3 linked regions of the Homo sapiens genome follow. The main gene of each other region encodes a partner of the protein of the gene in region 2 in a complex. Each region holds a gene or a part of one and is shown on either strand. Other genes may lie near its edges.

The links.
Region 1: MED8 (region 2) and MED1 share a complex: the UniProt entries of both Homo sapiens proteins name them as parts of the mediator complex.
Region 3: MED8 (region 2) and MED12 share a complex: the UniProt entries of both Homo sapiens proteins name them as parts of the mediator complex.

The regions. Positions count from the first base shown.
Region 1 is NC_000017.11:39,449,780-39,453,528, forward strand, and holds the start of MED1 (mediator of RNA polymerase II transcription subunit 1), read right to left. Parts: upstream 1,485-3,749; 5' UTR 1,284-1,484; coding exon 1,259-1,283; intron 1-1,258. UniProt on the Homo sapiens protein: Component of the Mediator complex, a coactivator involved in the regulated transcription of nearly all RNA polymerase II-dependent genes.
Region 2 is NC_000001.11:43,383,351-43,386,883, forward strand, and holds the end of MED8 (mediator of RNA polymerase II transcription subunit 8), read right to left. Parts: coding exon 3,508-3,533; intron 3,321-3,507; coding exon 3,239-3,320; intron 2,877-3,238; coding exon 2,628-2,876; intron 2,377-2,627; exon of another isoform or gene 1,934-2,376; intron 1,792-1,933; exon of another isoform or gene 1,757-1,791; coding exon 1,692-1,756; 3' UTR 1,203-1,691; coding exon of another isoform or gene 1,100-1,202; 3' UTR 567-1,099; downstream 1-566. UniProt on the Homo sapiens protein: Component of the Mediator complex, a coactivator involved in the regulated transcription of nearly all RNA polymerase II-dependent genes.
Region 3 is NC_000023.11:71,128,529-71,132,277, reverse strand, and holds part of MED12 (mediator of RNA polymerase II transcription subunit 12), read right to left. Parts: intron 3,681-3,749; coding exon 3,560-3,680; intron 3,165-3,559; coding exon 3,063-3,164; intron 2,963-3,062; coding exon 2,849-2,962; intron 2,599-2,848; coding exon 2,423-2,598; intron 2,244-2,422; coding exon 2,064-2,243; intron 729-2,063; coding exon 657-728; intron 206-656; coding exon 72-205; intron 1-71. UniProt on the Homo sapiens protein: Component of the Mediator complex, a coactivator involved in the regulated transcription of nearly all RNA polymerase II-dependent genes.

The sequences.
Region 1 (3,749 bases), on a different chromosome or scaffold from region 2:
GATTACAGGAGTGAGCCACCACACCCGGCCTTTTTTTTTTTTTTTTTTTTTTGAGACGAAGTTTCGCTCTTGTAGCCCAGGTAGGAATGCAATGGCGCAGTCTTGGCTCACCACAACCTCCACCTCCTGGGTTGAAGCAATCCTCCCACCTCAGCCTCCCAGGTAGCTGGGATTACAGGCATTCACCACCACGCCCGGCTAATTTTGTATTTCTAGTAGAGACGGGTTTTCTCCATGTTGGTCAGGCTGGTCTCGATCTCCCAACCTCAGGTGATCCACCCGCCTCAACCTCCCAAAGTGCTGGGATTACACGCGTGAGCCACAGTGCCCGGCAATTTTTTTATTTTTTTTGTAGAGACAGGGCCTCAGTATGTTGCCCAGGCTGGTCGCGAACTCCTGGGCTCCAGGGATCCTCCAGCCGCAGCCTCCCAAAGCGCTGGGATTACAGGTGTGAGTCACTGCTCCCGGCCTCACCTTTCGACCTCTGCTCCAAAACACACTCTTTGTTTTTCTTGAGAAACCTGCTGATAAATATCTGTACTTCGATGCTCCAACACTTTTTGAGCGACTATTACGTGCCAGAAACTATACAAAAATAATCAGGCAAGGACTCTAATCTGCAAAGCTCAGAGGAAACTGGAGAAGATAAACAATAACACAGTTCACTGTATCAACAGAACTATGCCCAAAATGCTAAGGCAGCATCTTAGCCGGAGTGTGGAACTTTAGAAAATCTTAGTAAAGTTCCACAGAAAAGTTGTTTTTCTGCAGTTCGTAGTTCGGTCAATAAAAGAACGAAATTCAGCGCACTTTAAAAATACACAATGGCACAGGATCTGAACACTTGACATTGTAGAGAACTGCTGGCTGCTAATAAATATAAGGACCTAATCATTTCATTGATGCCAAAATAGTCTCCAGTACGTTTACACACAGCCCTAAATTTATTCAGGCGTCTCTTCTGGAACGAGATGTAAGCTGATTTTGTATTCATTTGCCCCGTCTCCCACCACTTTAGGCCAAAAGTGCCCTAGTCGAGCATGAAATCTTCACAGAAGTTGAGAGTCCCCATCGCCCTAAAGTCGAAGCTCTATAATCACCAAGGAGGGTATAGTGACAATCTAAAACTAATACACATTCCCTCTCCTGGACTCTATGCCCCTAAAGTGGCCCCCATGGGACATCTGCAAGAACCTCCTCTCACAAACTGGCTCCCCCAGTTGTGTCCCGCCCCCTCCTTTCCCCTACAGTCACTTACCCTCGGTTTCCCCCTGAGCTTTCATCCTGAAGGCGAGGAGAAGCTAGATCCGCCACAAAAGGATAAGCCCTTCCCCACCACTAACGGAGGAAACAAGTTGGCTCGGGATCCCGGGACGCAGGGCACCAGCAGTCCCTACTCTTCCCGGGAAGGATCAATCTGAAGTCCCCGGCGGCAAGAAGAGAAGGGTGCTCGAGGCCGCCGCCATCTTCCCCAACGGAACTTCCCAAAATTCGCGAGATAAACCGTGGTCCTGCCAGAGAGAGGAAGAGGACAGGGCATCGAAATCTCGCGAATATTGGTCAATGCGTCGGCCTCGCGAGATTTCTTTCAGCGCAGTCTTCCCTTTGATCTGAGCTGTCTCAGGCCTCGCGCCGCTGGATATTAAACCTGCCGGCCGGTAGCTTTCGGCTCCCCTGCGGAAACCGCCATTTTTTTTTTATTTTAGCAGTTAAACAGCTCGCAAATTAAAATCTCCAGATCCCTGTACTGAAAGACTAGCTTTTCTTTTTTTTTTAATTTTTTTTTTTTTTTTTTTGAGATGGAGTCTTGCTCTTGTCGCCCAGGCTGGAGTGCAATGGCACGATGTCGGCTCACTGCAACCTCCGCCTCCCGGGTTCAAGCGATTCTCCTGCCTCAGCCTCCCGAGTAGCTGGGATTACAGGCACCCGCCACCACGCCCAGCTATTTTTAGTAGAGACGGGGTTTCGCCGTGTTGGCCAGGCTGGTCTCGAACTCCTGACCTCGCTGTCCGCCCGCCTCGGCCTCCCAAAGTGCTGGGATTACAGGCATGAGCCACCACACCCGGCCATGACTAGATTTTCAAAGGCTATTGGTATCAGGAGTGTCTTATGAAAGATAAGTTTAACCTGAGATACTAGATGCAATAATTACATCCTAAGAAAGATAGTGGCGCATTGTAACATGACGTTCAAAGCGAGCCTATAGCACAGTTAATTCCCCTTTTCTCATTTTTTTAGTTTCAAAACTATTTCTGGCTAGGCGCAGTGGCTCATGCCTGTAATCCCAGCACTTTGGGAGGCCAAGGTAGGTGGATCATCAGGTCAGGAGTTTGAGACCAGCCTGGCTAACATGGTAAAACTCCGTCTCTACGAAAAATACAAAAATTAGCCAGGTGTGGTGGTGCGCTCCTGTAATCCCAGCTACTCGGGAGGCTGAAGCAGGAGAATCTCTGGAACCCGTGAAGCGAAAGTTGCAGTGAGCAGAGATCGCGTCACTGCACTCCAACCTGGGTGACAGAGTGAGACTGTCTCAAAAAGAAAAAACTGTATCCTTTACTATCCTCAAACTAAGTGTTCTTCACTTAGTAAGCATCTGTGGAGTCCTAATATGTGTATATTTGGAGCTGCTAATACAAACATGAAAACACGGCTGGTCGCGGAGCTACTCAGGAGGCTGAAGCAGGAGAAGCGCTTGAACCTGGGAGGCAGAGGTTGCAGTGAGCCGAGATCATGCTACTGCACTCCAGCCTGGGTGGCAGAGCAAGACTCTGTCTCAGACAAATAAACAAACATGAAAACACAACCCTAGCGCTTGATAGGCTAATCTTATTTAGAGTTCCGAAAATATGATTGGTCACTATAATCATAGGGGCTCAAAATTTTTTCATTAATTATTATGCCCTAAGTACCAATGCCAGATACCCAACTACACTTTATCATGGAAACTCTATACAAATAAAAAAAAAAGTCTGTACTAAGTGTTGCTAGGAAATTTTTAACTTTATAAAGCTTATAAATAAACTTTACTAACTTCTGGTTACAGAATGGAATGAGAAGTTATCATTTGTCATCTGAAAATGCAGATGAGAGACACCATTGGAAAAGTTCTACTCTAGAAGATAAGAGAGCAATGTCCTTTGGGAGGCTGAGGCAGGTACTTGAGATCAGGAGGTCGAGACCAGCCTGGCCAAAATGGTGAAACCCCATTTCTACTAAAAATACAAAAAATTAGCCGGGTGTGGTGACACATGCCTGTAATCCCAGCTACTGGGGAGGCTGAGGCAGGAGAATCGCTTCAATCCGGGAAGTGGAGGTTGCAGTGAGCCAAGATCGTGTCATCGCACTCCAGTCTGGGCAATAAGAGCAAGACGGAGTCTGAAAAAAAAAAAGAAAGCCATGTCATTAAACAAGAAAAGTATTCAAGGTACATATAGGAACAGTATACATAGGAAAATGGGTACAATGGGCAAATTGTAAGTGACTAAGCTTTGAAGGAGGCGCCAAAGGACTCTTTTTTTTTTTTTTTTTTTTTTTTTTTTTTTGAGACAGTGTCTCGCTCTGTCGCCAAGGCTGGAGTGCAGTGGCACAATCTCGGCTCACTGCAACCCCCGCCTCCTGGGTTCAAGCAATTCTTCTGCCTCAGCCTCCCAAGTAGCTGGGACTACAGGTGTATGCCACACCACCCAGCTAATTTTTTTGTATTTTAGTAGAGACAGAGTTTCACTATGTTGCCCAGGCTGGTCTCGAAC
Region 2 (3,533 bases):
GGAGTAAAGGACAATAGTCACCAAAAGATGCTCCAGGAATTTCAGAGAAGCACAGCTCAAACTCTACCCAATATGCCAGTTAATACTGACATTTCCAGTGGGAAGGGAAGAGGTGAGAAGATAACACCTGAGTGGGCTGATGAGCCGGAACAGTTTAAGTGGGGGAAAGGTCTGGCATTGCCTTAGAGCTGGTGACCAGACTCCCCTACTGCTATGTATTGTGGTCAGTGAGCTTTGTGGATACCATTCCTCACCTTGATGGAATGGTAACAGATGTGACATCTGGGACCACTTTTCCAGTCCTTTGCTGCCACAGCCTGGCAGAACTTTGTTTGGCACTGAACAAATGCCAAAGTACCAGTGTGTGACAGAACAGAAAAAAGGCAGCTGGAAGGTATGAGCAGGAGGGAAGTTTCAGGATTTTTAGATCAAAGCTAATTAAAGATACGGAAACTTTTTTATGGAGAACAAATTAGAACTGCCTTGCAGCACTCTTGAAACTGCCCCTCTGATCCCTATGTAGTGCTCTCATAAATTACTGTCAGACAACCCTGAGCCAGTGAACATCAATTTAAATAACTTTATTCAGAGGAATCCTTTGGTCCACTTCTGCTGACTCAACCCCTGCCCATGCCAACAAAGGAGTACTAAGAAAGGCAGGTTAGCCTGAATGTCTAAATTCAATTTGTTCAACTTTATAAAAGCAGGCAAAGCTACTGGGGGTTGCCCCCTCCCACCATCATTCTGGTCCACCATTTGGGCCACAGGCTTAGGGAAATGAAGGAAAGTCGTTTTCTTTGAAGGAAATCCTGGCCAAAGTCGAGAAAGTGGGCACCATTATGAGGTCAACTAAACCCTGATGGCAGTGTGAAGTGCAATTCCCTTCTCCCTCCAAAATAAGAAACATGAATCCAGGGGAAGGGGCTTTTTCGTGTGCTAAGGAAAAACCCTTTCCCACATAGTCCTGCCTGGCAGAGCCACTTCCTGAGAAAGCCTCGTGTGTATAAGGTGGGGTAAAGGATAGGGGACTTTATGACTATTTGACAGGTAAAAGCCAAGTTGGCTCCTTAGAGGATGGAAAGGAGAGCAGGCCCAAGCTTCACCAGAGCTGCAGGTGGGCATTTTTTTTTCCTTCCTGGCCCAGAAGCTTCTTCACCTTGCGCCTTAGAGGGATAGCCAGAATGAAACCCAGGCAGGAGGGCCTGCAAAAACAGTGTGCCTCTAAGAACACAGAGGTTGCTACAGTTTCTGGCAGCACAAAATAAGCATAGCCTTATTTGATCTTGTGTCCATCAGCTCACCATTGACGTGAGGCAGTATCAGATTAGGGTAAGTTCTGGATCAAGGACTGTGGAGGGTGGTGGGGAGAAGGATCTGTAGAAACTATCATTTATTGAATACCCATTATTTCATATACTGTACTAAGTGCTTTACATTCATTTCCTCATTTTAATCCTCACAACAACCCTATGAGGTAGGTATTATCACCATTTACAAATGAGAAACAGGCTCAGAAAAATTAGGTCACTTGTCCAAGGTCACACAGCTAGTCAGTGGTGGAAGTGGGATTTGTCTGCTGCTGAAAGCCCATGTTCTTTTTATTGTACCCATCTAGGTGAGCCTTGAGCAAAAGGTAATTTCACTGCCCAACTCTGCAAAGAGCACCAGGGAGTCGAGGTTGCCAGCCACACTCACCGCTGGTAGGGATGCATGGAAGCCGACTTGATGTTGGTTTTTATTCCACTTGGCATTTTCCCTGAAAGGAACATTAAAAAAGTCATCTTAAGCAAGGTAAGACTTTCATGACAAATCAGAAATGTGGTACCTCAGGTTCCCTCTGTCACTTCCTTTATCATCTCAGAACCTCTGCGGCATCTGACCCTGTTTGACAGAGGTCAGAAGTATGATTCTTCACCCAGCTGTCTCCCTGAAGGTGTCCAGGAGGAAAGAAGTGACATGGGAGAATAGTCTGTTCATCCACTCCTAGAACAGATAGCTAAACCTGTGTGACTCCCATTTAACGTCACAGGTAAAAGAGTACTATGTTCTCTCATTGTTTTTCTTTTTTTATATCATAATAAGTGCAGAATCTCTCTTTAATTGTCCCTTTTCCTAGACAGCTTGGAGGAAATAACTCTTCTAGCTGCCTGCATCTAGACTGTTCTAAAAATGAGTAGGAGAGAAGGCAGGAAGCCAAGAGCAAGAGAGGCAGGATACAGAGAAAAGAATACATGTAGGACTGGAAAACTGGCCTGCGTGTCAATTCCTGATGCACCTACCAAATGGTCTTAAGATCTGACTGCTGATTTCTCTACCTAACAAGAGACACTGACAACATATCTAATACCAGAATAAATGGGATAGAAGGATAGTTGACACAGAGATGTGAGATGCGGATGAGAAATTGGAGCAGTTTCTGTTACTCAAAGTTCTTCCTCACTCTCTGGTGCCTGTTGCAGAGTCTCAGATGAGATTTTTTTACTTCTGAAAATTATTTCCTGGGTCACAGTGAAAAGGAGAAATAGAGAAAACCTCTAGGTCTAGAGATGCTGGAGGCCCAGATAATCTAGCTTATTCCCTCCCACTCCTGCTCAAAGTCAGCTTCATTTCAACCCCTGCCACCTTACCTGGTTGACCTGCCTGAGCCATTTGTACCCCACTGAGCATTGGCTGCTGCTGGCTTGGAGCTCCTGCCATCTGCACCTGCTGTAATCCTGAGGTTCCTGCAAGGATCGTCCCAGCTCCTGGCTGGCCTGCCTGGCCAGGACCACTGCTGCCTGAAGGTCTCCAATTAGATAGTCCTTTCCCAAAGGCAACAGCTGCCACCAAGGCATTAGTGTCTGTAGGGTTAAAGGTCTGCTTGTTCGGCCGGAGACCTGAAGAAAAAGTAATGGGGATCCTGAAGTATGCTTCTGATGCAGGACTGAACGTGGCAGCTGGAAGACCAGTATGAGTGCCAGGGTTTGGAGTTCTGAATTCAGCAACATCTAGACTCCCTCACAGCCCAGAAAAAGAGCCAGAGGACCCCCAAGCCTATCTCAGAATTCTCTCTTCTTACTTTGCCCATTTCCTCCACTGCTTCAGTGCTGGCCTTAAATACAAAAGGCTAACAGAATGGATACAAACCCCAAAGCAGTTCACCCTTGTGTCCTAACTTCACTACTTCCAAAACAACCATTCCCATTCCAGTGATCTTATATACCTCTCCTTCTCTGTTTAGCCACCAGTCCCATCATACCTCCACTCTCTGATTCTCGCTCCTCTTTGCTGATTTTCTCCAGAAGGTTTGAACACATTTTATTCAAGCTCTGGATCTGCTTCTGTAACACACAAATTTGTGCAGAGATTAGGGTAACTAGGAAACGATATGGAGAAATTTATTCCTTGGGTTCTGCCAGAAGCAACTTAGGCGCAACCAACTATGTATCCCTACTAGACAGGAATGGTAATGCCTAGCTTCTCATGATGGGATGGGGATGGGGCAGCAAGGCAGTGACTCAGTCCAACCTGGGCTGCATCTGCACCAATGCGGG
Region 3 (3,749 bases), on a different chromosome or scaffold from region 2:
CATCTGATATCACTCACGCTACCAGCAGATAAACTCCTAAGGGGATGGGTCCTAACATGTTTCTATCCGACCTGAGCACAGGCTTGGTCTTGCTGCTGCTGGGCATGTTGCTTGCAGTACTTCCAGAAGATGACCCTGTCTCTGCTGACTGTTGGAAAACCTCGATTGTGGCCTTGGCGATGTTCTCCAAGAGGGAGTTCATCTCCTGGGGAGGATGAAAGGCACAGAAGTGCTAAAATAGGTAGCTAAGGGTGAAGGAAAGCAGATGGTAGGAGAGATCGGAGATGACGGAGAAGGACAACACTGGCGGAGATTGATGGGGAGATAGGAACGCAACTCTGTTGGGAATCATGCCCTCTAGTACCTCCATATTTCTCCAATTCCTCACTGTCTTCTCCTTTACATACCTCCTTACATCTATGGCCAGAGAAACAGGCTCCACCACCACCACCAAGCTTCCCCACAGCTCAGAGCTCCAACACTCTCAACCCATTTCCCTTATCATCAGCTCCACTTGTTCACCATTTTCCCATCCCCTCTTATCTCTCAGCTCAAGAGCCCAAGGGTAGGATCTAGGTTCTTCTGTGGTGGACCGCCTCCCTGACACATGGAGCTGAACGTGAGCACAGGAAAGGGAGGGTCCAGGCACTACTCACATTGTTAGGGGTCTGCTTGATCATGAGCTGCAGCTCCAAGGAAGACTGGCGCATGGTCCACTGGTCCAAGTTCTGTGATAGAGGCCCCACACCCAGGCTAGTCATCATCGTGTTACCCCCAGCTACCCAACAATCTGAGGCCAATTCCTGATCTCCTGCAACATTGAATCACAGACTCCTGGAGGTCTGAAAGGGACCTCTATGTCCCCATCTTTAAGAAAGACTACATTTAGGGAGGCTGAGACAGGCGGATCACCTGAGGTCAGGAGTTCAAGACCAGCCTGGCCAACATGGCAAAACCCCATCTCTACTAAAAATACAAAAATTAGCTGGGCGTGGTGATGGGCGACCTGTAATCCCAGTTACTCAGGAGGCTGAGGCAGGAGAATTGTTTGAACTTGGGAGGCAGAGGTTGCAGTGAGCCGAGATCGCACCACTGTACTCCAGCCTGAGCGACAAGAGCGAGACTCCGTCTCAAAAAAAAAAAAAAAAAAAAGACTACATTTAAATAGTCCAAACTAGTTGAAAATCTTTCCAATTTTTAAAATAGTTCAGGAAAGATTTCACATCTTTCCCATCCCTTCGTATCAGGAAGTTCTGCTTAATGCTTAACCTTGAAACCCTTGATGTTAAAGTTGAAGCCTGCTTCTCTTGTTTTAGACCAGCTGCTCAAAGTCCCTGACAGAACCTTTATAAGACAATCTCTCAAAGTCCTGTAGAGACCAGAAGGCTACTGTTAGCTAATCTCTCTTCAACACTATCTCTTCTGGGCTGAAGAGACCTTATTCCTTTAGCTTTTCCTCAACGGCTTTATTTTTCCACTCTCTGGTCATCTGAAGGTGTGAAGCAATGTGAAGAGGAAAGTGCACAGACATGTCTGGGTTCACATATTGACTCTAAACTTATGGGCTATGTGACGTTAGACAAGTTACTTAACCTCTTCAAGCCTCAGTTTCCTCATCGGTCAAACAGGGAGGCTCACCTACTTCATAGGGTCATAAAGATTAAATGAGGAAATGTGTGCAGAGTGCCTAGCACAGTACCTGGCACAAAGCACATGCTCAGCAAGTAGTAGCTATTACTATTCAGTTCCTGAGCCATGGCCAAAATGCCAAATATACACGGCCCACACCTAGGCCTCCCAGATGCTATGCTTCCCATTGATAAGCTAGATTCACTCCAGATAGCTATGCCCTCACCTAATACTCTTACACTGGAGTCTAGACCCTACTGGACTTACTCCTCAGCCCATGCTGGAGCTGTTTCTCTCGCTACCTCTCCCCTCCCCTATATCCTTGTTTGTCTTCCTCTCTACTTAACTGCCCCTCTCCTTTTCTCAAGGTTCCTATTGTTTCTCCCCAGATTGGGCCCACTGCTTCCTCCACAGCCCCCACGGCCTTGGCCTACCTGGAGAATGCGCTTTATGCGCTGCCGCTGGGGGTTTTCCCCATCCTCATTGTCCAGCAGTCGATGTGGATAGCAAATGAGCTGCATGAGGCGCTGCGCCTGGGCACTACTCAACACTGGGTCTTGCAGGTCATTGCTGTCCTCACACAGAGACTTAAGGCAACGTTCTCCTACCCATTCCTGAGGAAGCTGACAATCAGGGACTGGGAACAACCAGTGAGGGGGTTAGGAATATGGGGGATGGGCTGGAGTTGTTAAGGAACACAATGTATAGTAGGGAGCTGGTGTGATCATGGGCTGGAAACAGAACTATATTACACAGAGGCATTTAGGAGGTGTGGGAGGAAGGTGAAACTGACCTGTTGGCAGATGCTGCGCAGCACGTACTTGGCATAGACATCCAGACTGGCTGTCTCCACAGAGATGTTGCGGCCACCCTGCCTCCGACCACCACTGCCACCTCCTCCCTCCTCCTCTGGAAGTTCTTCTGTTCCTCCTGTCACAGTGAAGCCTGAACCTTTCAGTTCCGCATCCCCTGTGGTTCACGGGTGGGAGATAGGGAGGGCAGAGTGAGATTGGAACACGTGTGGAGACCCACCCTGGGCCCACAGAGGTAGAAACACCCCAAATCCTGCCCTATGGGACAGAAATATACTTCTCTCCCTCCCCTCCTCCCCAAAGGTCAGAGAGACCACCTTCAGAAGGGAGAAAGACTGTCCCTTGTAGTTTAGCTGGCACTCCACCCTATACACACTTCTGGCACCACTCCCTTCCTACCCCCGTACCAAGTACAAACACAGCCTTGAGAACAGCAAACACGGCTCCATCCACGATGCGGTTCTGGGAGGCAGCCAGCAGGTGGCGGTCGCAGGAGGAGCGGATTCCTACTGTAGGCTTGTCTGGGGAAGGCGATGAAGTCAGGGGAAGCAAAAGTAGAATCCACGGAGGCAGGGGAACCACACTTTCTACTGTTGGCTGGTTCAGATCAGGGTCACTTACTTCCATCAGACTGGCAAGGATTGAGCTGCGGTGTCTTGAAAAGGTGAAGGAGGATGCGGCAGGTAAGCCGGGCCCCTGGCTCAGAGTCCTGTTCACTACAAGCTAAAAGGAAGACAAAACAGATCTGGAAGGGATGAAGTTAAACTGTATGTGGGTTTATGTGTGTGCGTGCCTGCATGCATGCAAGTGTATGGCAGGGGCATGGGAGAGAAGATGAGGTAAAGTGAAAGGAGAAAAAGCAAGATAATATTGAAAGCGAGGTAGAGCAGAGAACTGTTACGCAGTTGAAGGGTCAGAAATTGGAAAGGTCAGGGCTGCAAATCCAGGGCTAAAAAACAGGTTTCTTCTAGCCTTCAGCATACCAAAGGACTGGCCTTCTGAGGAAGGCCAGGGAGCCGCAGCAAGGTCTCCCACAGTGAACAATGAGAGGATGGCCGTCCAGTGTGTATTGAAATTTGAGGTCTAGAAATGCTAGGGGTTACAGATTGGTAGTTCACCAGCATTAAGGAGTGAAGGGATGGCAGCACAGCGAATCAGATCTTCCAGGAGCAAACACTGCCGAGCGATGAGGATGGCAACAAAAGTAGCCAGCGAGTCATGAAAAGATAGGTCACTGACCTGGAGGAAAAAACAGACAGACACCATGACTCAGTGTGGAGGCCCACTCAAAGCGGTGTGCCTCCACTC